7 separate regions of the Homo sapiens genome follow, and regions 1, 2, 3, 5, 6 and 7 are each linked to region 4. Evidence: fine-mapped expression QTL. A gene starts in region 4. Each other region holds a variant in brackets. All regions are shown on one strand. Distances are between the middles of the regions.

Region 1 (4,605 bases), 870 kb before region 4:
AACTTTTTTTATGTTTTAAAGAAAGTTGGTATTTTGTGAAGCCCTAGAGCATTCACTTATATTTTCTCCTTTTGGGGAAAAACTGAAACATATTTTGTATACCATAAAATTCCCCCTTTTTGTACAAATTTGACAAACACAAATAGTGAACCATCACCACGATCTAGACAGAGAACAGTTGCATCAGCCCCCAAATTCCCTTGTACTCCTTTAAATTCACCTGTCCCCCACTTCAGCAACCACTGATCTGCTTGTCATCCCTCTACTTTTGCCTTGTCCTGAATGTTACATTAATGAATTCATTCTTTCGTATGCCCTAATTTGCTATTTTAAACCGTCTCCAATTGGCCCATATATTCGTTACCCATTTTTACATTTATCATTTGAATTCTATGGTTAGAAATTGTTAATGTGTGTGTTCTGAAAAACCACATGAATAGACCATGTGATCTAATGGGTTCACCTAATAGAATTCTAGAATCTCAGTGTTGGAAAGAATCACCTAAGTCAAATACTTCTGTAGTGTATCGTTAATGCAATGACTGTTGGACACAGCGCCTTGTCATATAGTTTCCAATTTTGTGCTCCTCCTCTCTTCCTTTAGGGTTATTTATTTTCCTCCTCCACACCACTAGCAGCTGGCTTGACCAGGTGACTTGTCTGGCCAACAGCGTGTGAGTGGAAGTGATGTGAGCAGCTCTTGAGCTGAAGCTTTAAGAGCCACTGCAGTTCTGGCATTCCCTGCTCCCTTTGTAACGAAAAAAACATATCCCAGACAGGGGCTGCTTCTTCTGCCTGGATCCTAGAAGGTGAAGGATGTGCAGCAGAGTCACTGCACACCTATGACCCATATGTAATATGAAATCAACAAAGAAACACACCTTCCTGTTGGAGATTTTGAGATTTTGTGCTTAGCACTTAGGACTTCTCCCTGGGACACTCTTTCTTCAGATATTGGACAGCTTAATCCCTCTCATCCATTGGGTCTCTGTGCAGTGTAGAGACCACAACTTATGACCTTGCATAAAATGCATCACATCCCCATCCCTGCCACGCTTCCCCACCTCCATCTACTTCACTCCCCCAGTAGCGTATATGTGCATTAAGGAACTCTTTGTTTATTGCTATGTCCTAAGTCCAGATCACTACCTCTAATGCTTTGAAAGTTCAGTAAATATTCATTGAACAAATGAATAAATGTTGCCTTAATAGAAAAACAAAAATAAATAGGTCTGTTTCTTATCAAACTGGTGTGGTCTTTTACTGTCAGATAATTAAAACTATATAACTCGATATATAGTTCTGATTTGTCTTCTAGTTCCAAAACTTACTCTAGGTTTTTTCTTTTTCTATTAAAAAGATTTTGCTCTTTCTCGCTTCTTGTTTTTATTTATTTATTTATTTTTGAGATGGAGTCTCACTCTGTTGCCCAGGCTGGAGTCCAGTGGCGTGATCTCAGCTCACTGCAACTTCCGCCTCCCAAGTACAAGCGATTCTCATGCCTCAGCCTCCTGAATAGCTGGGACTATAGGTGCCCACCATGATGTCCTGCTAAATTTTGTATTTTTAGTAGAGATGGGGTTTTGCCATGTTGGCCAGGCTGGTCTTGAACTTGTGACCTCAGGTAATTGGCCTGCCTCAGCCTCCCAAAGTGCTGGGATTACAGGCATGAGCTACCACTTTCGGCCTCCTTCCTGCTTCTTACATTACAAGCTGCTTCAAATTCTTGAGATTACCCAGGCATAAGTAAGTAAATGCAAACATATATCCATGAAAAATTATAGCATAACTGCATTGTTTTTAAGTATGTTCATCTCTAACATTTCAGGCTCTATGATGGCCACGCTCACACACAGGCAAAGCATACAAGGTCCTCAGTGTTGCCTTCTTCCCGCTCCTGTAGTCTGATTTCTTGCCACCTTGGATTCCCAATTTTCATTGAACAGACAGAGCTATTGATAGAACCTGTAGACTCTAGTCTCCTCATGCCTTCTTCTCTACACTGAATGCTCTCTTTACTTCTCTTTACTGGACTCTTAGTCTTTAAAATTCACTCATTCACACTTGAGCACCTTTTACAAGTAAGCTAGGCACTTTCTCTGTTCTTGGGCCACTTTATTGAACCAAATAAAGATGCCTGTCACAGGGCTTCCATTCTAGGGGCAGAGTCAGACATAAATGATGCACATTAGCAATACATCATACACAGAGATTCTCCTCTACAGCAGCAGGCCCAA[G/A]CATCACAATGCTGCTGACCTTGCCCTCGATGGCTACAGTAGGCATCACCCAAAATGCTCAGAAAGGCCAAATAAAGAAAACCAAACACTTTTGAGATTTTGTAAAAGGTCCTAAGTGTTAGGGAAAAAGAAAATGCAGAAAGCGAGTAAGGGAGACAGGAGTGCTGGGGCAGGGGAGGAGGAGGAAGGAAGGCTTGATGCTTTCTGGGTGGGAACAGAGTGCTTCAGGCAGAGGGAACAGCCTGTGCAAAAGGCCCTGGGCTAGGAGTACGTGCAAAGAACACCAAGGAGGCCAGAATGCCCTCACATCAAGGCTGATTTAATTGAAAGAGAAGGGTGTAGGGAACAAGAAAGCAAAATAAATTAGATTCAAGATGTCTGTCTTGGAAAAAACTTTGGCACAGGGAACTGACTGGAAGCAGAAAGAAAAGAAGCATTCCCTTTTCTGAGGGACTGCATTTTCAAAGGAGCTACACATCCCTATCTGTTGGAAACATCAAGCAGCCCATTAGATCTCCAGCATCTATAAGCTATACAGGGACTGAGAAACTCCCCGAAGAAAGGTATATTCCTCAACTTCCTCATCAGATGTGGCCAAGGAAGATAACGGACAGGAAAGAATCTCCCAGGGGTGTGGCCAAGGGCCAAAGAGAACAGTGGCCAAAGGTGCTTCCCTAGAGACACCCAATCAAGGAACCTCCGTGATGTCTGCCCACTGGGATGTTGGAATGGTCATAGATAAACAAAATGTAGCATATTTTTATGATGAAACACTGCTTGGAAATTAACAGAAAGGAACTACTATACTGTTGTATACACGACAACATGGATGAACCTCAAAAACATTATGCCGAATGAGAAAAGCCAGACACAAAAGAATACATATAATATGAATCCATTTATGTGAAGTTCTAGAACAGGAAAAAAACAGATTACCTGGTTGGATGGAGGGGACTGACTGCAAAGGGACACAGAGGAATCTTTTAGAGATAATTAAATGTTTTCTGTATTGATGGAGCCTGCATGGGTGGATGCAATTATCAAAACTCATTTAACTAAGCAAGTAAGGTCCATGCATTTTCTTGTATGTAAAGGATACCTCAGTGAAAACAACAATCATACAAACAAAATGGAATATAATGTAACTTGCACATGAAATCCCTAATCCCCAAACTATTCCCAGGTACTTCAGCATCCACAGGCTTTAATTTGGGGAGTCAGAGAAAACCGGGGCAGGTTTCCTGCTAGAGTGAAGGGAAGAAAAACCATCCTTGGCCTTGATTTTTCAACTGGCCTTGAACCTAATTGCTTTTCCATGTTCAGGTTTAGCAGCACTCTTTAATGTATTTTTGGTCATTAATTTAAATGTTATGCTTGACTTAACTGGAATGTTCACACTTTGACATAAATCTCCTATGTAGCACATTTATATTCTCCATTCATGTTGCCTACAGTGATTAGTAGGTCATTCTGGCCTGTGCTGTGAGAACAAGTCACTAACCTGAACCATCTGTCCCAGAAGTAGACTCAGCTCTACCGTTCCATTAACCCTTTTGCTGCCTGTTGTCACTCACATCGAGGCTGTATATATCTTCATTTCCTGCCTATGTTTCAAAAAAGCAAAGGATCCAACACATTTGCATGAGCTCCATAAAGGGGATTTTATTTTGCTACATCAACTAACAACCTCTGTTTTTACCCTAGGACTGCACATCTTTAGTACAGCTATCTGTGTTCCAAAGTAATAGTAAAAGGGAAGACACTGACTTTTCAAGGAGCTTATGGAATATGTGACAGAGCAAGCTTAATTATCTTCTTTCTTTGGAGTTTATGGCTATTATTCGTCTTATTTCACAGGTGTGTGCTTGCTTACAGTCATCAGAGGCCAAAGCCCAATAAACATGGGATAAAGGACGCAGGGATGGAGAGACCCAGTGTAGCTGATGATGGATGGTACTTGGAAGGGGAAAGGGGCACTCAAGGCAAGGTACGAGAGGGCACAGAACTCACTTATTTCACATAGGGACACAGGGCTTTGAGGAGGAGGTCATTTCTAGATCTCATCTGAATGCTCTGAGTAGAGCATTTCTGAATCCCACCCAGAGCTTCCAAGGTCTTCGTTCAAAACACTCAGAACCTAAACCTCACCATTGGCATCTCCTGAGCTCAGAATTTGTTTCAGTCCTTGCTCATAAGAGGCCCTACTGGCTTTTACTGTTCCCAAGAGAAAGGCCAATGTCCAGCCTGCCTTACCTGCCACCCCTTCTGCTGATGAGAGAGGCTCAGCTTGTTTCTTAAGCTCGCTTGTCCATGTTCCATACCACATCATTCTGGCTTCCCACTTCCCACCCACATCATAGCCAAGAGG
Region 2 (4,605 bases), 51 kb after region 4:
TTCGGTCACTAAAAATAATGTGCACATAGACTCAAGACCTGCAGTATTGCTCATGATAATAAAGTAACCAAAATAAGAGAGTATAAAGCCAAATATGTAAATCCCACCGAAATATATACATATATCATATGTATAAATAATACCAAGCCATTCTATTTCTTTTTTAAAAATTTTTAACTTTTAAGTTCTGAGGTACATGTGCAGGATGTGCATGTTTGTTACATAGGTAAACGTGTGCTGTGTGGTTTGTTGCACCTATCAACCCATCACCTAGGTACTGAGCCCAGCATGCATTAGCTATTTTTCCTAATGCTATCCTTCCCCACACCCTGCCCGCCAATAGGCCCCAGTGTGTGTTGTTTCTCTCCCTGTGTCCATGTGTTCTCATCATTAAGCTCCCACTTATAAATGCGGACATGCAGTGTTTGGCTTTCTGTTCCTGCATTAGTTTGCTGAGGATAATGGCTTTCAGCTCATCCGTTTTCCTGTGAAGGACATGATCTCCTTCCATTTTATGGCTGCATAGTACTCCATGGTATATATGTACCATAATTTCTTTATCCAATCTATCATTGATGGGCATTTGGGTTAATACCATGTCTTTGCTACCGTGAATAGTGCTGCAATGAACAATACCAAGCTATTCTATTTCCAACCATAAATATGTTGAGAAAAATTCAAAGGAAAAGTAAATGATGGGTGCCTTTTGTTGTCAATTTTTATATCTCATTTTACTCAGATTTTCCTTAACGGATGACTGCTACTCACCTGAGTTCTTATGTTTACCAGCTCTGTGTTTTTGAATGAGTCACTCAAACTCTGTTTGCCGTTGTCCTCATTTGACACATGGAGATAATCATAAAACTTACTGCACAGGACTGTTGAGAGGATCAAGTAAAATAATATAAGAAAACATCTAGACAAGTAGCAAGTTGTAAATGGATATTAGATGCTTGTCAAGTTTCTTACTGCAGTTCTGAATTAACAGCTAATTACAGAAAGATAGTCATTGGGACAGAACACTGCAGGTTTATCTTCACATTTTCAAAGCCATATTTCTGCAATATGGTACTGCTGGGGAATGGGAGAGTGGGCAAGAGAACATCCCTGCCCCACCCCTAGAGGTACACATTCATACTAGGTATTTCTTTCCAGATAGTTAACCCACTTACCCGATCTGCCCAGCACTCATGGGATGCAGGAAACCCTGGAACTGCTCATAACTGTAGCAGCTCATGAAGAACCCTAAGGAACCACCTCATCTAGTACTTCTGAGAGACCTCAACAGCCCCGCCTTCTGCCACTGACTTGAGACCTCCAGTGAACAGGGTTACCTTCTCCCTGGGGAACCAGACTGGCAGAAAGCATGCCACTGGTAGTAGCTGTTATCTTCTTCTCCCTCTGGGTTTGTGAGTTGCCCCCTAATCATTTCAGTCTACAGAAGAGATTGAAGTCATTCTGTATTATTACCTCTTCACGTATCGTTGGCTTATGGGAATTTCTCTTCACTTGCAATTGCACTTGGGCAGTTGGAACAACCTGAAATATCTATTTCCAGACCAGCAAATAAGAGTGCCCACATATCTTGGAAGGCATCCATCCAAGGCTTTAGCAGTAAAATCATACACTGGTACTGGCAGAAACCAAACAAAGGCTTAGAATATTTATTACATGTCTTCTTGACAATCTCTGCTCAAGATTGCTCAGGTGGGAAGACTAAGAAACTTGAGGTAAGTAAAAATGCTCACACTTCCACTTCCACTTTGAAAATAAA[G/T]TTCTTAGAGAAAGAAGATGAGGTGGTGTACCACTGTGCCTGCTGGATTAGGCACCACAGTGTTAGAGTTGTCAAGATAACCTACACAGAAACTATCTCCGAGTCTGTGCCTGTCCACATCCTTCTCCATGTGGGCAACCACAGCGGTTTGCTCAGCTGGGTGCCCAGCCGGAGCCTGCCCTCCCTGCAGCTCTTCTGGAATGTTGCAGGAAGACATCTTAGATTCTGCTCCCTTGGTGTGCAGAATCACATTGGTGATTCATGGTGTCCAAACGGGAAAAGTTTTCTTGTTCCCTCTCAGGGCGTGCGATAAGGATGTGGCTCCCTTCTTGGTGCCCCTCTCCTCAAACCTCTAGGGGGAGCATGCACACGTGCAGGTTGTGGGGCTCCGACCCCACAGCAGTGTCTAGGGGTGAATGCTTATAACTCCTGAGGCCCCAGTGGGCCTGTGTTACAAGGTGTCCTTTTAGTTTGGCTGTCCATAGGTGACTTGCTTTAGCCAGCTCAATTAGACCCCCTGCCTTATTGCAAGGACGGAGGGCTTTCTGTATCCCTGGGTTTCTTGCCTTGGTGTACTGAAAGAATTGGATAACATGTGGGCTTGGAGAATGAGTGCAAGTTTTTTATTTTTGTTTTTGTTTTGAGACGGAGTCTCGCTTTGTCGCCTGGGCTGGAGTGCAGTGGCGCAATCTCGGCTCACGCAAGCTCCGCCTCCCGGGTTCACGCCATTCTCCTGGGCAGTCTCCCGAGTAGCTGGGACTACAGGCGCCCCCCACCATGCCTGGCTAATTTTTTGTATTTTTAGTAGAGACGGGGTTTCACCGTGTTAGCCAGGATTGTCTCGAACTCCTGACCTCGTGATCTGCCCACCTCGGCCTCCCAAAGTGCTGGGATTACAGGTGTGAGCCACCGCGCCTGGCCGAGTGCAAGGTTTTATTGAGTGGAAGTAGCTCTTAGCAGATGGGGGAGCCAGACGGGAGATGGAGTGGGAAGGTGGTTTTCCCCTGGAGTTGACTGCTCAGCGGCCAGGCTTTCCTCCAACCACCCCGCCAAACTCTGCTTTGTTCTGCCAGTCGATGGCCTGCAGCCCGCCAGTCTCGCCAAACTCTGCTTTGTTCTGCCAGTCGATGGCCTGCAGCCCGCCAGTCTCTGTAGGTGTGCTTTTCCACATTAGTGTTCCTCTCGATGTCCAGCCACTTGTGTGTGTGCCCACTAGGGTCTCAGGGGTTTTATAGGCACAAGATGGAGGCGTGGCGGGCCAGGGTGGTCTTGGGAAATGCAACATTTGGGCGTGGAGGCAGGAGTGCCTGTCCTCACCTAGGTCCGTGGGCACAGGCCTGGGAGTGGGGCCCTCGACAGGGACCACGTCCTTCCTTTCCCTGCACTTCCCTCCCCCAATCCCATATCAGTGTCAGCAATTAGGATCCAAATTAGGGACATTTTGACACTATTTCCTACAACATTAGGATATCTGGGAACTCTGAAAATACAGAGTGGGTGGCTTAGAGCAAAATTCATCTGTCTAGTAATTCGCTACGTAGAGATTTCTAGTAACTGGTTCAGAATGAAAGTAGGAAGCAGTATATATTTTACATAGATATTCCCTGCTGTTATCATTATTTTCCCATTTGGTTCATGAGCATTGGAGGTTTTCAAAGTTAGAGTGATCTGTCAAACATAGTAACTGTGTGCTTTTTATTCGCACCTGAGGCCATCCTGAAGAAATCTAGGGACAAGTAAGTAGATCTGTAAGTAAACAATCACCTGTTTGGGGTATATGAGAGATGAAAGTATAAATCCTGTGTCCTAGAGGAAGAGCATGCAGCTCACTTCACACTCAGGGCTCAGTGCTGGGACAAAACAAGCACTGTGCAGTGGAACCCAGCTCCTAGGCACAGTGGGGGATCTCAGGATGGGGGCTATGCTTTGGAGATCTTGTCTTTCAGGGTTCTGCAAAGAAAACTAAAAATCCTGAGTAAAATAGGATTAGATAGTTAAGAAGAAAGATAATACATGCTTCCTGCATCGGTAAAGGAAATAACCATAATAATACCCCTCAGAAATTAATAAATAAGAAATAATGATTGACAATTATTTTATGTTTATTCCATGATTAATCATTGGGTGGTTGGGAACTTTCAAAAAATAATGAAACAAAATATAAAACTGTAAAACTGTAAAAGTCCTCTCTCACTTCTTTGAAACTTTCAAACAACAAATTAATGATGAAAAATCCGGAGTTTCAAAGATTTTCTCCTATTTATACCTTTAGTACTATGGATATCTGACAGCATATTGCCATACATGCAGTCTACTTACAGTCCTTGAAGTAATTGCAACGTATTTTTTCTCCATTCTCCCTTCTGAGAATCAGCTTGTACCATCCTGATAGGATAAGAGGAGAAATGCTATTGAAAGCCCAATGAGGGAATACCAGGAGCCTCCATGGCAGGTCAGCCCCTTTCCAGGTGCAGACTCAGAATCTGGAGTCCCGCATCCTGTCCGCCATGATTCCTGACCATGGTGGTCCACAGGGAGAATGACCTGAGCGCCTGAGTGAGTCCTCAACAGACCTCACCTCTCACCTGATGCATACATAAAAGCAAAGGGAAGAAGATTGTTAAGGAAATACAGAGCCTGAGAACATGAACTTTTCAAGAAATAGGTGAATGAAAAGATGGAATTCAGCTTTTCACAATGTCAGTGTTAAGTATTTTACATGGATTATTTTATTTAATCCTCAAAAGAGCAGTGTAGAGTGACTGTAGTGGCCACACAAGGTCAGGTCTTAGAAGATGCAGTCACTTTGACTTTTTAAGAGACTCCTGGGA
Region 3 (4,261 bases), 20 kb before region 4:
GACTGCCCCCTCCTAGGGCTGGGCCTGCTGACTCCAGGGTCTGCTTCCCCCACCTCTGCACTCCCTCTGCTGCAGGCCTGAGCTCTCCTTGCCCCTGGCTCTCTTCTGCAGAGGGCCTGCTCTCAGCTGCCACAAGAGGGCGCCGGAGAACGGACCTGAGCAGAGAGGCAGGGGCTCCTCTGCAGGTCCTCCCAGGCACCAACCCTTCTGGGAGGGAGGAAGGCTTGGGAGTCCTCTTAGACAGATCCTCAGTCACTTCCCTCTGCTTGTGTCTCAGGAAGACCACCTCCTCCTACTGTCTTCTGTGCTAGGGATCACTTCCTTGTTGAGTGGAACCTGAGTTTTAAGAGGATCTTCTGCTCCTCTTCATCTGGTCCCTTTCCTTCCAAGGCCCCAGAGAGGAAGGCATGCAGTGGGCCCTAGCGGTGCTTCTAGCTTTCCTGTCTCCTGGTGAGTGCGCTGCCTACAGAGAGGATCACGGGTTTTGTTTTATTTTCTTCTTTTGCAAGGAGTACCATACTAAGGAATTCCTCATTATATTTTGTGTTGTTCCCATTGCAGCCAGTCAGAAATCTTCCAACTTGGAAGGGAGAACGAAGTCAGTCATCAGGCAGACTGGGTCATCTGCTGAAATCACTTGTGATCTTGCTGAAGGAAGTAACGGCTACATCCACTGGTACCTACACCAGGAGGGGAAGGCCCCACAGCGTCTTCAGTACTATGACTCCTACAACTCCAAGGTTGTGTTGGAATCAGGAGTCAGTCCAGGGAAGTATTATACTTACGCAAGCACAAGGAACAACTTGAGATTGATACTGCGAAATCTAATTGAAAATGACTTTGGGGTCTATTACTGTGCCACCTGGGACGGGCACAGTGATTCAGATCCGCCCTACACCACACTGAAAATCTGCCTTGTGGCTGCTTCTGGTACACAAGATAGAGCCGCCCCCTCTCATTTCCTGCCACCAAATTTACCGTGTGCTGAACAAGAGAAACATTGCTTAACTCCTGATCTCCCCTGCAATATTACACTCCCCTGGCAGCAGCTGCACCCTGTTCCCCACCCTCCCCCAGGACTTTCCTGAAGACCAAGCCGCCATCTCAGCTAAGCCTCAGAGAAGCAGCCTGGCTGAGAGCAAGGTTCTCTTAGCTCTCCTAGGACATGGGGGAGGCCCACTCACTCTGCTTCCTAGGACAAATGGGTACCCCTAGGGTCCAGCTGTAAAGCAAGATATTTTGGACAACAAATGGGAAGGGAATTTATACTAAATTGTGTATCCCATCATGATCCAGAAACCGCAGCTGAGACTGGTGCTTATTCCTTATGTCTATAACAATATAAGCAATACTATAATGACCACTGAAACACCAGGCCTAGGTATGCAGTTGAACATTCTCTCCCTCTGCCCTCCCTTTTATTCTCTCTCTCTTTTTTCTTAATTCTTTGCTTGCTTTTATTATTTTTCTCTCTCCCTTCCTCCCTCGCTCCATCGCTCCCTCCGTCCTTCCCTCCCTCTCTCCCTCTCTCCTTCCCTCCCTTCCTCTCTTCTTTCCTTCCATCCATTCTCCTTCGTTTTCCTTCCTTCCTTCTTTGCTTTTCTCTTGCTTTCCTTTTTGGGTACATAATCAGAATACTTTTTCCACAAAATCATTTGAAATAATTTTTCTCTATGTGTTCATGTCAACATTGATATAGCTACTTTAATTGTTCAGTTTTCTTTTTTACATTTTGGAAATTTGTTGTATTACTTTGTTTTGTTTCATATCTGTTTTGTATATATAAAACATTTACATGGAAGTGAAGTCAAAATTATAAAAGATGATGCATTTGAAGATTTTAGCTTCCATTGTAGACTTCTCATTCTTCTTTTCTCCCTGACACTATAGGTAACAATATTTTTGGCAGTTCACTTGAGTTTTTTCACTGTTTGTCATAGCGGAGTATGTATTGTTTCTATTTCAATGCCATATTTATATTTTCTTTCTGATATTCAGTTTCTATATATTTTAATCAATCTTATATTTTCCTGTGTCTGGACTGTGTGTCTTACTTCTAAAGGTGCACATACTTCATAAGTATGCATAAAGACGTCCATATCATTTATTTGAATGTTTTTATGCATTCATTATTTAATGATGGCATCATTGATCTATCAGGAATTTTTATACAATAATTACTGTATTAGTAATAATAATACTGGCCAGGCCCGGTGGTTCATGCCTGTAATCCCAGCATTTGGGCAGTCCAGTCGTTAGGATCACTTAGGCC[G/A]GGAGATTGCGACCAGCTTAGCCAACATGGTGAAACCCTGTCTCTACTAAAAATACAAAAAATTAGCTGGCTATAGTGGCGCACACATGTAATCCCAGCTACTTGAATGCTGAAGCAGGAGAATCTGTAGAGCCTGGTAGGTGGAGTTTTCAGTGAGCTAATATCACACTACTGCAGTCCAGTTTGGGCAACAGAGTGAGACTCTGTCTCAAAAAAATGAATAACGATAATAATAATATTGATGCTACATATGGGTACTGACATTCTGGTAGTTAATGTACTAAGCACATTACATGCATATTTTATTTAATCTACACAGAAATTTCATTAGGGTTTAAAGTACTGTTGAATGTAACATTAGAAATTGAGGGGGTTAATTAACATTCCCTGAGTCATATACTTTAACTTGATAATGATTGCAATCCAAGCTCTGTGATTCTGAAAACGAGATTTGTAAATTCAGTTTGCATTCCCTCATCTTTGGGAGTACTAACATTATTTCACAACTTTATAGGTCATTTATAGTTCTTCTTTTGTGAATTGCCTTGTCATACTCTTTGCCTATTCCTCTCTTGGAGGATTAATTTTTTCTTATTAGTTTGTAAGAGTTAATATACACTATTTTAAAGATACTGACCCTTTATCCAATGTGTTGAAGATATTTCTCCTCATTTGTTGTTATTTACATTTGGCATCTTTTGGTGAATTGAACTTTGAAAAAAAAAGCATTAAAATCTATCAGTTTTTCTAGGGTGTCTAGTTTGATGTCAAGCTTAGAAAGGCCAATCTCACCTAGAATTTCTATGCAATTCATCATTGTTTAAGTGTAATGATTTTGTTTTTATTACAACTAAATCACTATCTATATCTGGTAAGAACGAAATGCAATAATATTTGTTTCCATATGGTAAGTCAATACCCAAAACAGAACTTATAAAATAATTGACTATTTCCTTGTGGGTATTAACATATCACTTTATCACATGATAAAATATTACATACGTGTGGCTCTCTTTCTGGATTTTCCACTGTGTTCCATGAATCTTCTCATTCTAGTGCCAGTATTGCCCTCTCTTCAGCACTGTAGCTTTATACTTCTTTTCACATTTTGATGAAGTTTCTCTCATTATTTTTTTGTTTTAAGAATTTTCTGTGCATTCTAGTGTGATCTCAATCCTCTCCCTTCCCATTTTTAAACCATGAGACTTCTGTCCTGCAAGACTTTTTCACGCTCCAAGGCAGGCAAGCTTCCCTCCTTCACAAGGACCCGAGAACTCAGCTTTCAGAGCTGCTCCTACAGCAGCCTCATGTCCTGCATGTGTGCTCCAGAGGCAGAGGGAGACCAACCAGAGCCCCCTCCCTTTCTCATTCCCAGCTGTGATGACAGCAGAAACTGAACTCTCTGAGCTAGCCCAACACAACAACTGAGAGGGACACTGTTCTCCATCTCATTATGCATATTTCAAACATGTGTCTCTATATACTTCTTACAGAGGTGGTGATAATCTGTGAATGCCTTACTGAATTTTCACAATAATATTACTGTACTTGATTTGTCCCCTTATTTTCATCTGTGAAGCCAGGTGCACTGCAGATATTAGTCTGCTTTCTGAGGGTAGGGATGACAAATAAAATATACAATACCGGGGGAATTGGAAGTTCAGATAAATAACAAGTTTTTAGTTTAAGTATGTTCCAAATATTGCATGACATGGCACCCAGTTCTACTTTAAAAACAAACAAGCAAACAAACAAATTCACACTCCTACTTTAATGAACAAAAATCTTCTAATAAGGAGGTCACACACACAGGATTACAGGCACAACCCCCACACACAAACACACACACACATTTACCTTAGAGCAGAGTCCAGGACACACCAACACACATGATCCTCAGTCCTTTTAATTTAAAGCACGTTCAACCCTTCTCAGAGTGGCCTTGAGTGGTTGCCTCCATGAGTCTGCAGATGCGAAAAGGAAGTTGGT
Region 4 (4,605 bases):
TATTTTCATTCTGATATTTGGTTTTTATACATTTTAATAAATCTTATATTTTCCTGTGTCTGGATTGTGTGTCTTACTTCTAAAGGTGCACATACTTCATAAGTATGCATAAAGACGTCCATATCATTTATTTGAATGTTTTTATGTGTTGATTATTTAATGATGGCATCATTGATCCATCAGGAATTTTTATACAATAATTACTGTATTAATAACAATAATACTGGCCACGCCCGGTGGCTCATGCATGTAATCCCAGCATTTGGCCAGTCCAGTCATTAGGATCACTTAGGCCGGGAGATTTGGACCCGCTCAGCCAACATGGTGAAACCCTGTCTCTACTAAATATACAAAAAATTAGCCGGCTGTTGTGGCGCACACATGTAATCCCAGCTACTTTGGATGCTGAGGCAGGAGAATTTCTAGAGCCAGGAAGGTGAAGGTTTCAGTGAGCTAATATCACACTACTACAGTCCAGTTTGGGCAATAGAGTGAGACTCTGTCTCAAAAAAATGAATAATGATAATAATAATATTGATGGTACATATGGGTGCTGACATTCTGGTAGTTAATGTACTAAGCACATTGCATGCACATTTTATTTAATCTACACAGAAACTTCATTAAGGGTTTAAAGTACCGTTGAATGTAACATAAGAAATTGGGGGGTTAATTAACATTCCCTAAGTCATATACTTTAATTTAATAATGATGGCAATCCAAGCTCTGTGGTTCTGAAAATGAGATTTGTTAATTTGATTTGCATTCCCCCATCTTTAGGAGTACTAGCAATATTTGACAACGTTATAGGTCATTTATAGTTCTTCTTTTGAGAATCGCCTTGTGATACTCTTTGCCTATTCTCCTTTTGGAGGATTAATTTTTTCTTATTGGTTCGTAAGAATTAATATATACTATTTTAGAGATACTGACCCTTTATCCAATGTGTTGAAGATATTACTCCTCATGTGTTATTATTTACATTTGGCACCTATGGTGAATTGAACTTTGAAAAATAAAATAATATCTGTCCATTTTTCTAGGGTGTCTAGTTTGATGCCAGGCTTAGAAAGGCCAATCTCACCTAGAACTTCTATGCAATTCATCATCGTTTAAGTCTAATGATTTTCATTTTATTACAACTAAATCACTATTTGTAACTAGTAAGGTAGAAATGCAACAATATTTGTTTCCATACAGTAAGTCAATACCAAAAAGAGAACTTATTAAATAATTGACTATTTCCTTGTGAATATTAATATATCACTTTATCACATGATAAAATATTACATACATGCAGCTCTCTTACTGCATTTTCCACTGTGTTCCATGAATCTTCTCATTCTAGTGCCAGTATTGCCCTCTCTTCAGCACTGTAGCTTTATAGTTCTTTTCACATTCTGATGAAGTTTCTCTCATTTTTTTGTTTTAAGAATTTTCTGTGCATTCTAGTGTGATCTCAATCCTCTCCCTTCCCAGTTTTAAACCGTGAGACTTCTGTCCAGCAAGACTTTTTCACGCTCCAAGGCAGGCAAGCTTCCCTCCTTCACAGGGACCCGAGAACTCAGCTTTCAGAGCTGTTCCTGCGGAAGCCTCATGTCCTCCACGTGTGCTCCAGAGGCAGAGGGAGACCAACTGGAGCCCCTTCCCTTTCTCATTCCCAGCTGTGATGACAGCAGAAACTGCAAAATTTGAGCTAGGACAACACAACAACCAAGAGAGACATTGTTCTACATCTCATTATGCATATTTCAAACATGTGTCTCTATATACTTCTTACAGAGGTGGTGGTAATCTGTGCATGCCCTACTGAATTTTCACAATTATATTACTGTACTTGTTTTGTCCCCTTATTTCCATCTGTGAATCCAGGTGCACTGCAGATATTAGTCTGCTTTCTGAGGGTAGGGATGACAAATAAAATATACAATACCCAGGGAATTTGGAAGTTCAGATATATAACAAGTTTTTAGTTCAAGTATGTTCCAAATATTTCATGACATGGCACCCAGTACTACTTTAAAAACAAACAAGCAAACAAACAAACTTACACTCCTACTTTAATGAACAAAAATTGTCTAATAAAGAGATCACACCCACAGGATTACAGGCACCCCCCCCCCCGCCCCCCGCCACACACACACACATTTACCTTAGAGCAGAGTCCAAGGCCCACCAACACACATGATCCTCAGTCCTTTTAATAAAGAACATTCAACCCTCCTCAGAGTGGCCTTGGGCAGTTGCCTCCAAGTGTCCTTGCAGATGTGAAAAGGAAGTTGGTTCACAGCCCTAATCAGAGGCTTCCTGGCAGGACAAGGTCCTGGCATCAGCATTAGCTGCTGCAACTCTGAAGGGCAGGGTGTGAGCCTGCTGTGGGACTGCCCCCTCCTAGGGCTGGGCCTGCTGACTCCAGGGGTCAGCTTTCCCCATATCTGCACTCCCTCTGCTGGAGGCCTGAACTCTCCATGCCCCTGGCTCTCTTCTGCAGAGGGCCTGCTCTCAGCTGCCACAGAGGGTGCTGCAGAACTGGCCTGAGCAGAGAGGCAGGAGCTCCTCTGCAGGTCCTCCCAGGCACCACCCTTCTGGAAGGAAGGCGTGGGAGTCCCCTAAGACACATCCTCAGTCACTTCTCCCTGCTTGTGACTCAGGAAGACCAGCCTTCCCCACTGCCTTCTGTGCTAGGGATCACTTCCTTGTTGAGTGGGACCTGAGTTTTGAGAGGATCTTCTGCTCCTGTTCATCTGGGCCCTTTCTTTCAAGACCCCAGAGACGAAGGCATGTGGTGGGCCCTAGCCCTGCTTCTAGCTTTCCTGTCTCTTGGTAAGTGTGCTGCCTACAGAGAGGCTCACAGGTTGGGTTTTGTTTTGGATTTTTCTTCTTTAGCAAGGGACGCCATACTAAGGAATACCTCATTATATTTTATGTTGTTCCCATTGCAGCCAGTCAGATATCTACTAACTTGGAAGCGAAAATAAAGTCAGGCACCAGGCAGATGGGGTCATCTGCTGTAATCACCTGTGATCTTCCTGTAGAAAATGCCTTCTACATCCACTGGTACCTACGCCAGGAGGGGAAGGCCCCACAGCATCTTCTGTACTATGACATCTGCAACTCCAGGGATATGTTGGAATCAGGAGTCAGTCAGGAAAGCATGATACTTATGGAAGTAGAAGGATAAGCTGGAAATTTATACCTCCAAAACTAAATGAAAATGCCTCTGGGGTCTATTACTGTGCCACCTAGGACAGGCAGAGTGATTCAGACCTGCTCTACACCACACTGAATATCTGTCTTGTGGCTGCTTCTGGTACACAAGAGAGAGCCGTCCCCTCTCATTTCCTGCCCTGAATTTACTGTATTCTGTACAAAGAGAAACAGCTTAACTCCTGATCTCCCCCCTAATATTACACTCTCCTGTCAGCAGCTGTACCCTGTTCCCCACCCTCCCCCAGGACTTTCCTGAAGACTAAGCTGCCATCTCAGCTAAGCCTCAGCTAAGCAGCCTGGCTGAGAGCAAGGTTTTCTCAGCTCTCCTAGGACATGGGGGAGGCCCACTCACTCTGTTTCTTAGGGTCCAGCTGTGAAGCGAGATATTTTGGACAGCAAATGGGAAGGGTATTTATACTGAATCATGTATCCAATCATGGTCCAGAGATCGCAGCTGAGAGTGCTGCTTACTCCTTATGTCTATAACAATATAGGCAATATTATAAATACCACTAAAACACTAGGCCTAGATATGCAGTTAAACACTCTCTCCCTCTGCCCTCCCTTTTATTCTCTCTCCTTTCTTACTTCCTTGCTTGCTTTTATTATTTTTTCTTCCCTCCCTCCCTCCCTCCCTCTCTCCCTCCCTTCCTTCCTTCCTTTTTTCATTTCTTCCTTCCTTGCTTTTCTCTCTCTTTCTTTCCTTTTTGGGTACATAATCCGAATATTTTTTCAACAAAATCATTTGAAATAATTTTTCTTTACATGTTCATGCCAACATTGATATAGCTAGTTTATTTGTTCAGTTTTCATTTTAAAATTTTAGACATTTGTTGTATTATTTTGTTTTGTTTCATATTTGTTTTGCATATGTAAACTATTTACATGGAACTAAAGTCATAATTTTAACGAAGATGCATTTGGAGATTTTAACTTACATTCTAGATTTCTTTTTCTCTCTCTTTTTTTTTTTTTTTTTTTTTTGAGACGGATTCTCAGTCTGTCACTCAGGCTGGAGTGCAGTGGAGCAATCTCGGCTCACTGCAACCTCCGCCTCCTGGGTTCAAGAGATTCTCCTACCTCAGCCTCCCAAGTAGCTGGGATTTCAGGTGCCCGCCAGCACATCCAGCTAATTTTTGTATTTTTGGTAGAGACAGGGTTTCCTCATGTTGGCCTGGCTGGTCTCGAACTCCTGACCTCAGATGATCCCCCTGCCTCGGCCTCCCTAAGTGCTGGGATTACAGGCATGAGCAACCTCACCAGGCCCCATTCTGGATTTCTCTTTCCTCTTCTCTCCCTGACCCTATAGGTAACAATATTTTTATCAGTTCAGTTGAACTTTTTCACTTTTTCTTATTCAGAACAAGTCTTTCAGTATTACAGAAAAGTCTTTTG
Region 5 (4,000 bases), 47 kb before region 4:
TTTTAAATTTGATTTTACATTTAAAAATCAGCTCTTTTTCTTCTAAAGTGTAAAATGTTGTATCATTCTCTCTCTCTCTCTCTCTCTCTCTCTCTCTCTCTCTCTCTCTCTCTCTCTCTCTGTCTTTGTCTCTCTCCATTAGAAAGTAACTGCTACCTTGCTACCTCTTGTGGGGACAGGGGTGGCTATAATGGATTTATGAATAAATTAATTTGGAGGAAAAGCTAAACCTCTAGATAAGGGGTTGTTTCCTGCCAGGTTCCGTTTTAACTGGAGCACAAGCAGTCCAAGAAGCCTTGTGCCAAGCACGGCTGGAGCTTGCTGGGCCCATTCTGGCCTCCTCACTAACTGTAGAATAACCTAAGGCACCCCATATAGACCCTCTCTCTGGGTATCAGTTTTCCAATCAGAAAAATTAATTTAGGGATAACATAATCCATTTCCAGCTCTGACAGCTTGTGATTCTATGAATATGCTCAATGGCAAAATACACACTTTAAAAGCCAATGTTTACTCTCAGGGGTGGAGTTGAGGGAAAGGTGGGAAAAATAAAATCAGCCATGACAGTAGAGTGATTCAGACTGGGTGACAGACGCATAGGGGTTCATTATGTTATTTCTTCTGCTTTAAAATATTTTTCTATAATAAAATTTTAAGGAAATCTTTTTCAAAATGGGAAAGGAAAAGAAACTGGTTGCCATTGTATATAAGGTAGGATAGGGAAGGAAGGAAATATATTTACACAGAATTGATCACAGAGTTTTATTTAGTAGTAATTACTGTATAACCTGCAAGTGGTGGTTTTCCTTATTATTATTTGACAGAAGCTGGGGTTAGAGGAGCTTTAGACATTTTGGGTTCCAGTTAAACAACAAACAGTAATAAAGCATCAGCGATAATAAAATGCAAATCTCTAACAAAAATAAGATGAATTAAAATTTGATTAATATAGTGCTTTTCCCTGTTGTAGAGGGCATTGCATTACTATTAATAAATATACATATGAATGGCCTCATATCAGAGAATAGGACTTCCCTTCTGGCTTTAGAGGCCTTCTTCCTCCTTGGGATATGGCAAATATCTTCCTCTTTTCATCCAGGTTGGAGAGTGACTTGTAAGAGTGTCTGCTTGAAATCTGGCTGGGAAATTGATTTTTATGTATTCTTATCTTCTGCAGGTGGAAACACTGCATGATTTTGAGGCAGCAAATTCTGATGAACTTACCTTACAAAGGGGTGATGTGGTGCTGGTGGTCCCCTCAGATTCAGAAGCTGATCAGGTAAAAGAAAAGATAGGAAGATGCTTTGGGCTACGTTGATTTTTTTCTGAGGGTCTGTTGGACACAATCACTTCCTAAAGATGTTTCTATTTTCTGAGATGCTACAAGCCATCTGAAAAGGGCTTAAGGGCTTGTGACAGCATAGATCATTAACGAGGTTTCTAGGACACCCTTTTGGGATGCTGTTGCATTCTTTTTTTATATAATACAAACAGTTGACTGTTTCTTATCACGTAACCACTTTCTGGGAATGTTATCTCTGTAACACCTGTCTTCAGGAAATGCAGACACTATGAATGTGAACTAAAAGACCCCTTCAAAAGTGGTTGCCTCTGGGTGTGTGGATATTGATGAGGAAAGAACCTGGGGAACCCTCTGGAGTGATGGAAATGCTTTGTATCTTGAGAGGGATGTCTGCATGTATTTGTCAAAACTCATTGAACTATATATACCTAATCATCTCTGCATTACACAGTATTTAAGTTATACCTCAACTTAAAGAGATTCTTTAAAAATATCACTTCCTAAAAGAGTGGTCTGATGTAAGGTACTGAGAACTCCCATCTTGTTCTCATTCATAAAATATGTGAGCCCTTGAAATGGTATGCAGAGCAAGTAAATGCATCTGTAAACATATTTTTCTGGAGAGAAAAACTCTAACTTCCATACTATTCTCAAAGAGATTTATGAGCTCTCCCCTTAAAAAATAAATTCAAGCATCACTGCCTTTGAGGTTAAGACTTAATATGTTCAACATTTTGTTCTTTCTTTTGACAACACACTTACCAAGATACATCAGGTGTTGGGTCAAGCAGTCTCTACCACAATAAAATAGATTGGAAATTTATATAACAATAATCTGCTGGGCAGGGTGGCTCATGCCTGTAATCCCAGGACTTTGGGAGGCCAAGGCAGGAGGATCACTTGAGGCCAGGAGTTCCAGACCAGCCTGGTCAACATAGCAAGACCTCATCTCTACAAAAAATTTTTTTTTTAATTAGCTGGGTGCAGCAGTGTGCACCTGTAGTCCTAGCTACTCAAAAAGCTGACATGGGAGGATCACTTGAGCCCAGGAATTCAAGGCTGCAGTGAGCCATGATCACACCACTGCACTCCAGCCTG[G/C]GTAACAGAGCAAGACCCCGTCTCAAAAAACAAAAAATTAATAACAATAATATATCTTTAAAAGCCCCCAAAGATTTAAAAATTTTAAAATACACTTCTAAATAACCCATGGGTCAAATAAATCATAGTGTGAGTTAAAAAAAAATTTCATAATGATCATTAAATAGAAATTAAATAGAAAAATGCATAGAAGGAAGAAAATAATAAAAATAAATTCACAAATGAATGCAATAAAGGACTATAACAGATAAAATTGATAAAGCCGAAAGTAGGTTTTTGAGAGGATTAACAAAATTATTAAAACCTTAGAAATACTCAAGAAAGAAAAGTCACAAAGCATAAATTACCAATACAAAGAAAAGGTGTCAGCATCACACATCTCAAAGATATTAAAAATCCCATTTATAATGGGATTTTTGTCTGCATTAACCAGAAGTTATTTTGTAAAGAAATAAAAGGAAAAAAAGTTAGTCTTTTATGTTTACCACCATGTTTACCATTTCCAGGTCTTCATTCTTTCCTTAAGTCCGAGTTTCTATCTGGTCTTAATTTCCTTTCTGCTTAAAGAACTTCCTTTAGCTATTTCTGAAGTGCTAGTCTGCTGGCAGCAAATCTTCTTGGCTTCTGTATATCTGAAAATGTCTTTATTATTCTTAATTTTTAACAATACTTTCACTAAGGTAGAAATCTGAGTTGATTTTTTTTTCTTTCAACTCTTTAAACATGTTTCATTGTTTTCTGGTCTCTATTGTTTATAATTAGAAATCAGCTGTCATTTGTTTAATATTGCTTCTCTGTATGCAAAGTGACTTTCCCTGACTACTTTTAATAAATTTCGCTGTATCTTTGATTTTCATCAGTTTAAATATATTGTGCTTGGGTAGGTTTTTTTTTTTTATGGTCTTCATACTTGAAAATCACTGAGATCCTTAGACTTGTAACCTAATGTTTTTCACTACATTTGCTTTTTATCTTTAATTTTTTTCTGAATTATTCTCTTTGTTCTTTTTTTCTGGGTTTCTAATTATACTTAAGTTGGACTTCTTGATAGCTAAGATGCTGTTCTTTTTCTTTCACTATTTCTCTCTGGTAGTCAGGTTGGATAATTTCTATTGATCTGCCTTCAAGTGCTATGAGTGTTTCCTCTGCTACTTTGAGTTCGTAGTTAAATTTATCCAGTGACTTTTTCATCTCAGATATTAGATTCTTACAATTCTTCATTTCCATATTGTTATTTCATATGGGTTTCCATTTCTTGGCTGAGATTTCCCACTTATAGTCTTTCATTATTACTGTCTCTCAATTTATATACTTGAACAAATTTATAATAGCTGCCTTAAATTTCTTACTGCTAATTCCAACAGCTGGGCCATCTCAGGGCATATTTCTATTGTTTGCTTTTTAATCTTTTGGTCATATTTTCCTGTTTTTCCATGTCTAATAATTTTTTAATTGATACTAGACATAGTAGGTAGACCATACGTGGTAAAGAGTCTGACTCTGTTTTCTATATCTGAAAATTGCTTATTTTTGTTTTAGCAGACATATAAATTACTGGATAATTCCCTTGAATTGATGGGAGTTGGTTTTATACTTTGT
Region 6 (4,605 bases), 31 kb before region 4:
AAAGCATGGTGGGAATTCTATTTTGTATGCATGTTTAGACTAAGGATCTTTTCTTTTTTTCCAGACTGGGCCAGAACCAAGTACCTGTAAGAATCAGCACAGTTCAGCCTTTTGTATCAATTGCAGTTGTGTCCATGTATGTGTGTGTGCATTCTTGGGTACATGTGCACACACCTGCATGTTACCTACACAAACCTCCGTGTTCCCATCCTTCTTAGGTGGGATTTTTGAACACTGCATTTACACTGGCCTGAAATAAGTTTGTTAAAGTCATCGGCCTCATGTAGTGGCCAGGCTGGGCTGCAAAGCCATTGGCTATCCAAACATTCAGAAGACCTTTAGGAATCAATGTTTTTGTTAAGGAGTCTATATAGAATAGGCTTTTCCTAGAGCAATGTTGAGTCAAGAGGAAGCAAATAACATGCATTATTGTTGGATCAAAATAAAAACTAGAAGCTTCCATTTTTCATTTCACCACACCTATTCCTTCAATATCCAGTTTATCAATTCAATTCAGAATCACAATTAGAACTAGAAGAGACCAAAAACATCACCCACTCCTCTGATTTTGAGGCGGGGGAAATGACAGCCCTGCAAGAAGGAGTCTCTTGCCTAAAACTATCAAGCACATAAGGTGTGCAGTTGGAACCTGCCTTGCATTTGGGGACCTTTCCATTCGTTATACGAAGTCTTTGCCATTCGTTGGGGTCTAATATTGGGGTAATATAACATGTATGGTATACCTCGAATGGCCAGGAGGGGGTGCTACAGGTTTGTACAAATAACTAAATGCAGTCAAAACACTACTTCTTTTAAAGCATGAAGCTGGGAGTTGAAATCAAATCGGAAATATAACATTTTGTATCAAAATGCAGCAGCTTCATGAAGACAGAAATTAATCCCTGAATCATAAACAGCCAAGCAGTTCCCTTATGGTACAGGCTCTGGAGACTTGTCTGTTTGGTTCAAATTCTTGGTGTGCTGTTTATTAGCTAGGTGACCTCGAGGAGTTATTTAACCTCTCTGTAAGCTTCAATTTCATCTGAAAAATGGGGATAAGTAACACCTATTTTCTGCTTGCAAGAAAAGAATAAATATATACAATGTTTGACACTCAAAGGGTATTTGCTATCATTTAATGGATCAAGAATTTCTGCTATGACTTTAAAAATTAGTCTTTTAATAAAAGGCCATTAACTATTTACTTAACAGTGCTAGAGGAAATTCCTATGACTTTTTGAGGTCCACCATAATTAACTGAATGAATACTATTCAACAGTATCTTAGGTTGTTTTCTTACTGGCAGCTGAGAGTGACCCTTGAGTTTCTAAAATCTTTCTGAAATTTTCTTCATGGTCTCTTATACTTTATAACTTAAAAAGAAATATATATAATATATATACATATGATATATGTATATATGTTATATAATTTATATATATATATATACACACACACACGAATATAAATGGCCGGTAGCCAGGATTTTGGAATTTGTTAGACTTCAGTTGAAATCCAGGCTCCATTATTTATTCGTCAAATGACCTCGAAGAGTTTAACCTTTTTAAGATTCCAACTCTCTCATCTGTGAAATGTGGTTGATTATATCTCCTTTGGAGTATTATTGTAAGAATTAAACTGTGGTAAAGACTAGCTTAGATATCATTTAGTTTAGAAATGAACAAGGTGGCACAACCCCTGGCCCCAGGAGATGAATGGTGTATCCAGGGTAAAGGTTATAATTGCCAAGTACAGTGACTTTCCCAAGGACATACAACCTCTAAGTGGCAGTGCTTGGACTTTTATTCTGTCTTTTCCAAAGCAATACATTCTTGAAACTAAAAGTTCTCAGGCCAGACTCTCCAAAGTGTCCCTATTTGGCAGCTCCATCTTGAGAAGTAACCTCTCCCTTCCGCACACTCTTCGTGGGATTGCATTGTTGGCTGCTCATCCTGGGCTGAGGCCCATGACCGGACCATTCCCAGGGCACCAGGCAGCCACAGGGCCTGTAAGAAGAGCAGGCAGGAAGTGAAGCTTTGGCTGAGGTTTCTGGGACACACTTAACTTCCCTGGAAACGATGCCTGACACCGCCTGGCCACAGCACTGGCAGGAGATGCTGCTGTCTTCTGGGAACATGCAGCGGCCAGTGAGCAGCACAGGACACAGGAACGTAAACTGGGGACCCTTCATCCATCCACTCTGGCTTCGTATCTTCTCCATTGTCCACTCCTATTTTAGCCCGGGATGATCAGTGATGATGTGCATGAGTTACTCATTCCCATCTATGCCCCAGCCCAGACTGAGCATATACAAACCCTGTTCTTTGCAGAATTTTTCATTTTTCCTTTTAATTTTCTATGGAAAGAATATATGTTATATAATTCAGCCTTATTGACACCCTTATAATAGCCTTCTAAACTACACACCTGATCATTTATCCCATCCAAATATACATATATTTGATACAGGGTCTCACTCTGTTGCCCAGGCTGGAGTGC[G/A]GTGGCACGATCACAGCTCACTACAGACTTGACCTCCCAGACTCAAGGGATCCTCCCACCTCAGCCTCCCAAGTAGTTGGGACTACAGGCGTGTGCCATCACGTGCAGCTAAATTTTTGTATTTTTTGTGGAGACTGGGTTTCACCATGTTGCTCAGGCTGGTCTGGAACTCCTGGGCTTAACTGATCTGCCTGCCTCGGCCTCCCACAGTGCCGGGATTACAGGCATGAGCCACCGTGCCCAGCCTCATTGATACACATTAAATGCCTACTACGTTCCAGGCCTTGTGCTGTGTGCTCTTGATACTGAGGTGTGTGCCCCCTTAAGCTCATTGAAAACACTATTGACCTGCGTCACTGCGGTCACAAAGTGATACAGAGAGCCCAGACAACCATTTAGAGGTGAGGAAATTCTAATAATTCATGGTAAGCAGATTGTTTCCCATAGTGTTGCTAGGGAACATCTCACAGCAGACTGAAATAGAAATACAAGCAATTGTCTGCGCACTAGAACTTTCTCCCCAAGGCAGTGCTATTTTTTTAAACAATTCTTCTATCATCATCATCATAATGCTGACCTCTTGATATGTAAAGGTACAATTACGAGGAGAAGCAGAAGAACATTTACATCTGTGAGTTTGCACCTCTCTCCCACCATAGTGAGCAGATCACACCCTCAGGACCCCAGAAGACTGGCAAGGAGGACTTGATAGAGACAAAAGGAGAGACACAAGAGGGGACAGAGTGTTCATATGAAGAGGGAGAGGGCATGATATAGAGACAGTGACGGCAACAGAAAGTAGAAAGTTGAAGAGGGACAGAGAGCAGAGTGGAAGTGAGAAGGAAAGAAAATGACTAGGACAGTGGCCATACAAGCAAAAAGAGCAAGAGACAGAGACACGTGGAGAGGTATAGTTCTCTATCATGGCGGGGGAGAGAGAGAGAAAACAGAGAAAGAAATACAAAACACAGAGAGAGGGTGAGAGACAAAGGGACAGAGAGACAGCGAGAGAGGGAGGGAAGATGGAGAGAGAGAAAACAACAGAGAAGAGAGAGAAACTGTGATATAAATATAGCGACAGGGACAGGGACAGTGATGGAGAGAGACAGAGAAATAGGGAAAGATACAAGAAGAGAGAACTGGAGTTAGGGGGAGAGATAGGGAGAGAGAGAGAACGATAGACCTGTGGAGACAGAAGCATACACGTGGACACACAGAGTGCGGCAGTGTTAGGAAGATAGAGATAAATATACAGAAATAATGGTAAATATTGAGATAGAAAAATATATATAAAGAGAAAAAACAAAGAAATATGCATATTTATATATTGTAAAAATATACATAAATGTATTTATACATGTATAATATGTTATATATAAAATATTATATATATTTCTATACAAAAAATTAGCCGGGTGTGGTGGCGGGCACCTGTAATCCCTGCTACTCGGGAGGCTGAGGTAGGAGAATGGCATGAACCAGGGAGGTGGAGCTTGCAGTGAGCCAAGATCGCGTCACTGCACTCCAGCCTGGGCGACAGAGCGAGATTCCGTCTCAAAAAAAAAAAATTATATGTATTTCTAGCTTTCCTTTTCTCTTCATATATTCTATCTGTCTGTCTGTCTATCCATACTATTGCCACAATAACGCCATGTAGCAAATATCCCAAACTCAGTGGCTTAGCACAATAATCATCTACAAATTCTTACAAATGCGTAGGTTTGCTAGACTGTTCTGCTGATCTAAACCAAGCTCATCTGATCTTGGCTGGGCTTGGCCACATGTCAGGCAGCTGCTGGGTTAGCTGGGAGGGGGACTGCCTGGTCAAAGTGCCTGGGTCTGAATAAATCAGCTCCACTACACACAGGGTTTCATCCTCCAACAGGCTAGCCTGGATTTGTTCTAATGACAATGACAGAAAGCAAAGAGCTAGCAGAAGCACATCAGGCCACTTGAAGCCTCAATTCAGAACTGGAGCCCTATGAGTTCTTCTTGTATTTAAAAAAAAAAAAAGGCGGGGGGCATAAACGGCGCCTCTTAATCGAAGGAGCTTTGACTTATCAAGAATGAGTTCCACTTCTGGAAAATTTGCAGTGAGCCCACACT
Region 7 (4,605 bases), 34 kb after region 4:
AAGTCTTGCCAAACAAGAAAAGGAGAAAGTTCATTTTTGTCACAGTCTGGTTGCAACAGTAAAAACTAGCTTTTGTCATCATCACATTTTCTAATATCGAAAGGACATATTTTAGGAAAAAGCATCCCAAATTTATAGGTATGTTGTTATTTATAGAACTTCATTTTTTTAAATCAAACTCTTCAGTGAATTAATTTTTACCACCTCCTCAGGTACAGGATAAATGGGACATTTGCAGCCAGTTTCCTCCTTGCCCATGTTTGCTGCGAGGTGGGGCGTGGATGTGGGGAACCTCTCTGGGGGAAGAGGATGGGTGCAGCAGCCCGACGACTGGTCGTGAGGCCCCACCACAAAAAGCCTCCACTTAAAGGGCAATGCTGAGAGCCCCACCACACCTCATGATGGGGAATTCCTCTGTCTAGAGATGTTATTTATTGTCATTCAAGTCAAGGAACTAAAATCCTAAGAAAAAGAGCATACCCCAAAGCCAAACTAGGCCTCCTAACAGTAGCTCTGTGCTCATCCTGCTTCAACAAGGAGGCAGAGTAGAGAGGAAGGAGGTGAAAGATATGGAACCCACTGAGCTCCCACTTTATTCCAGGCGTATTATGCACCTATCTAAGCCAATGCTGGTAGATAGGGATTTCAATTTCATTTTCATAGTTGAGGGCACTGGGTGTCAGATAGCAACAAGTCAAGCTAACAGCAGGCTGAACTGGAATTAAAAGCAGGACTGAATGATTGCATGCTCGCCTGTATAGCACACTACGTGGATTTGCTTGGCATTGAAGAAATAGGTTTTAGTTCCAGCTCTACCATTTACTAGCTGAGAGGCCTTACATTACCCCCTCTTCCCCATGGGGAATCCCTTCCTGCCTCAAAATATTGTTTGGATTAAATAAGCCAATGTTTGTAAAAGAGTTTTGGAAATTGTAGACACCATAACAAAGTAAAGAGTTATAGTTTTTTTTAAACACATTTTCATTCATTCTAATATGATTTCTCATATGAATTATCTCCTAAGGATAGTCAATATTTATGGAGCTCCCACTATAGGGAAGGCATCCTTCTTGATGAAATAAGGGGCTTTAACAATCCCTACAACTTATGACTTTGACTTAACAAAAACGAAATCTAGCATGTGTTATATGAAAGTAGCAGGTAACAAGTGGTCTAGCAAAGCTGCAGTGCTATATGCTGAGTGATAGAGGTATTTGTTGTAACATCCACTCCAATTCCTCAAGAAAATAGATGGTGGCAAAGAAGATTAAGTGATATTGCTCATTAAATGATGAGAATTTTTACATACTGGATATTCAGTGGGAGTTTCATTTTGTCCCAATCTCCGCTGACACTCTAAGCTCAGGAGAATGGTAGTAATACAAAAGAAGGGGACAAAACCAGAGATTCACAGTGGAGGGCAAGCCCCTCTCCAGCAGACATTGGTAATGTCTGAGACATTTTTTACTGTCACAAACAGAGTGAGAATGCTACTGGTATCTAGTGAGTAGAGGCCAGAAGTGTTACTAAACATCCTACAATGCACAGGACAGCCCCACAACAAAGAATTATCCAGCCCAAAATGTCAATAATGCAGAGGCTGAGAAACCCTGGGGTAGTTGGCCATATTTCTCAAAGACTTGCTAAGAGGTAGACAAAACTGATGACTCCAACCTTTGGCTCATGAGCTATATCCAGGCTAATTACAGTAAGAGCTTTCCTGGGGACTCTAATTTTGCAAAGACTTTCTCTGAAAAGCACTGTTGGGATTTCCCTGGAAACCCCCTCCTCTCCCAGTGAGGAGGTGATGAGGTAGCTCTTCTACTTCCACACCAAATAGGACTCTCAGGTCCTACATCCACCATGGGTCCAGAGCAGAGCCCTGTGTGTGGGTCATGGAAGTGTTGGGTCTGTGCCGTGAGCGTTTGGTGGCCAGATAAACCAGTGAGGACTCTCACCTGGAAAAGTGGACAGGTGGCTTCAGGTCATAGCCCACGTGGTAACTTGGACCAACTCTCCCCTGAAATCAGTTAGATAATCATGATGAAATAATAATAATGAAAAAGAATCTTTCTAAAAGTTTCTAAGAGTTAGCAAGATAACAAGGTGAATAACTTTTACCCTGGCAAATGGACTGATTATCATGGTGTCATACAGCTATGGGTAAAGTTCCCATGTGATCCTGAC[C/T]AATCAGCAACCTCAGAAATGACTGATCTGGGCGCAGGGCCTAAGGACACCCATTTTCTCTGTGAACACTCTTTGAGGTTCCCCTTCCTCATCCTGGTGCAGCTTCTCCTGCTCCAGGTTCCCTATTTCCTCAGCCTTGTCTCAGGCACTCAGCCTGAGCAGACGGGACGTCACAGCTACAGATATGCACCTGTTCTTCACTCTGGGAATGTGAACTTGTTCTCCTACTTCTCAGATTGGCTGAGGGATTTTTTTGAAAATGAATGTCTCATTTCTTGATAACTTTGGTTTCATTGAAAATGCTATTTTGTTTCTAATTGAAATTGGGTAAAAACAATTGAAGCAAGTAAAAATCTTTATTTCATTAGCAGAAATGAAGCATATATTTTCACTGTAGGGTATTTAGATAGAACTTTTCATACACACTCAGGTACTGACCAACACCAAATCAGGCTTTTGAGGATTTGATATTTACTTGGAAAAAAACCCTGTTCCAGGTCAATTACAGGCAAAGAGCTGCAACCATATATAAAATTCTGTATATAAATTCTCTATATAAAATTCTGTCTACTTCCCTTTAGTTCTTAATATAAAATTCCTAGAAAAATAGAAAGACATGATGACCCAATATAATGGCCCCCAGGAAACTAGCATGACATTGGAGCTGAGGTAATGGGCACTTGCCCCATTATCATGTCTGCGACCACATCCTTCCCAATGTGGAAGAGCCTCGTCCAGCCCTCTGCCCCAGCTAGGCCTCAGCCTCAGCTTGCAGCACTTCCTGTGTTCCTCAGATGATGCCTCTGTGATCACAGGAAACCAGAAAGGGAGTCTGATGACTATCAATTTCACCCCACAAATGCCAGTACCTATACCCCCAAGTGTCTGATTTGACATCATTTCCTATTGACTTAGGTTCCTATTTAGAGACTATGTTTGTTGAAACTGCATGATTATTTCAGAGAGAAAGCAAGGTCCATTATATCATTTCTTAGAAACTTCTAGTCATGGTGAATTGCTCAGGGTGAAGATGCCAGCAAGGAACAAGATGGAATTCATATCCACTCAGTTCCCACTGGCTGCCAGAAAATGGGATAGATGTTCTACATATTCAGAATTTCAGGTGATTGTCATAAGAACCTGGTAAATAAACTTATTCATGAAAGAAATAACTGATGTTTAGACAGGGGCAGTTATCTGTCCAAACAAATAGTTCATGCTCTTTCAAGTGCACTATTGGGCCACTTTGAATACCCTTTGGGTTTATTAACTTAATGGAAATAGGGCCAGGGGCAGTGGCTCAGGCTTATAATTCCAGCGCTTTCAGAGGCTGAGGCAGGCAGATCATTTGTCCTCAGGAATTCAAGACCAGCCTGGGCAACATGGTGAAACTCCATCTCTACAAAAACACAAAAATTAACCAGGTGTGGTGGAGCTTGCCTGTAGTCTCAGCTATTCCGGAAGCTGAGGTGGGAGGATCACTTGAGCCCAGGAGGCAGAGGTTGCAGAGAGACAAGATTGCAGCACTGCACTCCAGCCTGGGATACAGAGCAAGACTCTGTCTCAAAAACAAACAAACAAAACTTTATAGGAATGAACTGTGGCATTTGTGGGTAATTATGCGCTGGCCCGGACTTACTGCCTAGTCCTGCAGAGCTAGGTCAAGACAGAATGGGCAGTGACTCAAGACAGAATGGGCAGTGACTCAAGAAGCCATGGCTAAAGGGTCATGCTGAACACACATTTGGAAGAGTTCCCACCCCCCACCCCACCCCCACCCTGCTCCCCACCGGCATTCTGCCTTAGGACCCTTCTTCTCACTGGAGGGGAAAAGGCTAAGAAAACAGAAAACCCTCTCTGTTCTTGTGAACTTGCTTTAGCAGATAATATCATGGGTGGGATACCTGGAGAGGGATCAAAACCTCACAGCCCAGACTTAAGTAAATGATCAAAATGTGTAATGAGGATCATGTTTTGGAAATGTGGCCAACATATTTTTATTCTCTAAAATAAATCATGTCACCTTTTGTCCTTTCTTTATTGTAGCTAATCCATGATATTTACTACCCATAGAAAGAGATGGTAGTTGCCCAGAACAAACTCACTTTTTTTTTTTTTTTTTTTTTTTTTTGAGATGAAGTGTTACTCTGTCGCCCAGGCTAGAGTGCAGCGCACAGGCGCCCGCCACCACGCCTGGCTAATTTTTTTTTGTTTGTTTGTTTTTAGCAGAGACGGGGTTTCACCGTGTTAGCCAGGATGGTCTCAATCTCCTGACCTCGTGATACGCCCGCCTCAGCCTCCTAAAGTGCTGGGATTACAGGCGTAAGCCACCACAGCCTGCCACAAACTCACTTTTTGAATTAATTGTGAGATGTTGGGCTTGAAAATCAGGTTCAATTTTTTTTTAAAGAGTTTTCT

The links. PIP is the estimated chance that this variant, and not a neighbour inherited with it, causes the effect.
Region 1: its variant is fine-mapped to the expression of TRG-AS1 in whole blood (TOPMed, PIP above 0.99).
Region 2: its variant is fine-mapped to the expression of TRG-AS1 in whole blood (TOPMed, PIP 0.97).
Region 3: its variant is fine-mapped to the expression of TRG-AS1 in whole blood (INTERVAL, PIP above 0.99).
Region 5: its variant is fine-mapped to the expression of TRG-AS1 in whole blood (TOPMed, PIP above 0.99).
Region 6: its variant is fine-mapped to the expression of TRG-AS1 in T cells (TOPMed, PIP above 0.99).
Region 7: its variant is fine-mapped to the expression of TRG-AS1 in monocytes after R848 (Quach 2016, PIP 0.95). The same link has a PIP of 0.9 or more in monocytes after Pam3CSK4.

The regions. Positions count from the first base shown.
Region 1 is chr7:39,212,146-39,216,750 of GRCh38, reverse strand. The region is part of intron 4 of POU6F2 (POU class 6 homeobox 2); the gene reads right to left. Among named protein-coding and RNA genes, the nearest start is that of SNORA20B, 110 kb to the left of the region's middle. The variant G/A (reference allele first, on the strand shown) is at 2,238.
Region 2 is chr7:38,288,840-38,293,444 of GRCh38, reverse strand. It overlaps TRG and the pseudogene TRGV11. Among named protein-coding and RNA genes, the nearest start is that of TARP, 18 kb to the right of the region's middle. The variant G/T (reference allele first, on the strand shown) is at 1,775.
Region 3 is chr7:38,359,475-38,363,735 of GRCh38, reverse strand. The region is part of intron 3 of TRG-AS1 (T cell receptor gamma locus antisense RNA 1); the gene reads right to left. It also overlaps TRG and TRGV2. Among named protein-coding and RNA genes, the nearest start is that of TRG-AS1, 20 kb to the right of the region's middle. RefSeq lists enhancers at 250-349, 733-782. The variant G/A (reference allele first, on the strand shown) is at 2,273.
Region 4 is chr7:38,339,347-38,343,951 of GRCh38, reverse strand. It overlaps TRG-AS1 (T cell receptor gamma locus antisense RNA 1), which reads right to left and starts at 2,531. Exons shown (of 4, transcript NR_040085.2): 1 at 2,153-2,531. It also overlaps TRG and the pseudogene TRGV6.
Region 5 is chr7:38,387,083-38,391,082 of GRCh38, reverse strand. It overlaps AMPH (amphiphysin), which reads left to right. Exons shown (of 21, transcript NM_001635.4): 20 at 1,178-1,279. Among named protein-coding and RNA genes, the nearest start is that of TRG-AS1, 48 kb to the right of the region's middle. The variant G/C (reference allele first, on the strand shown) is at 2,402.
Region 6 is chr7:38,370,766-38,375,370 of GRCh38, reverse strand. The region is part of intron 3 of TRG-AS1 (T cell receptor gamma locus antisense RNA 1); the gene reads right to left. Among named protein-coding and RNA genes, the nearest start is that of TRG-AS1, 32 kb to the right of the region's middle. RefSeq lists a silencer at 589-883. The variant G/A (reference allele first, on the strand shown) is at 2,500.
Region 7 is chr7:38,305,493-38,310,097 of GRCh38, reverse strand. It overlaps TRG. Among named protein-coding and RNA genes, the nearest start is that of TRG-AS1, 34 kb to the left of the region's middle. The variant C/T (reference allele first, on the strand shown) is at 2,188.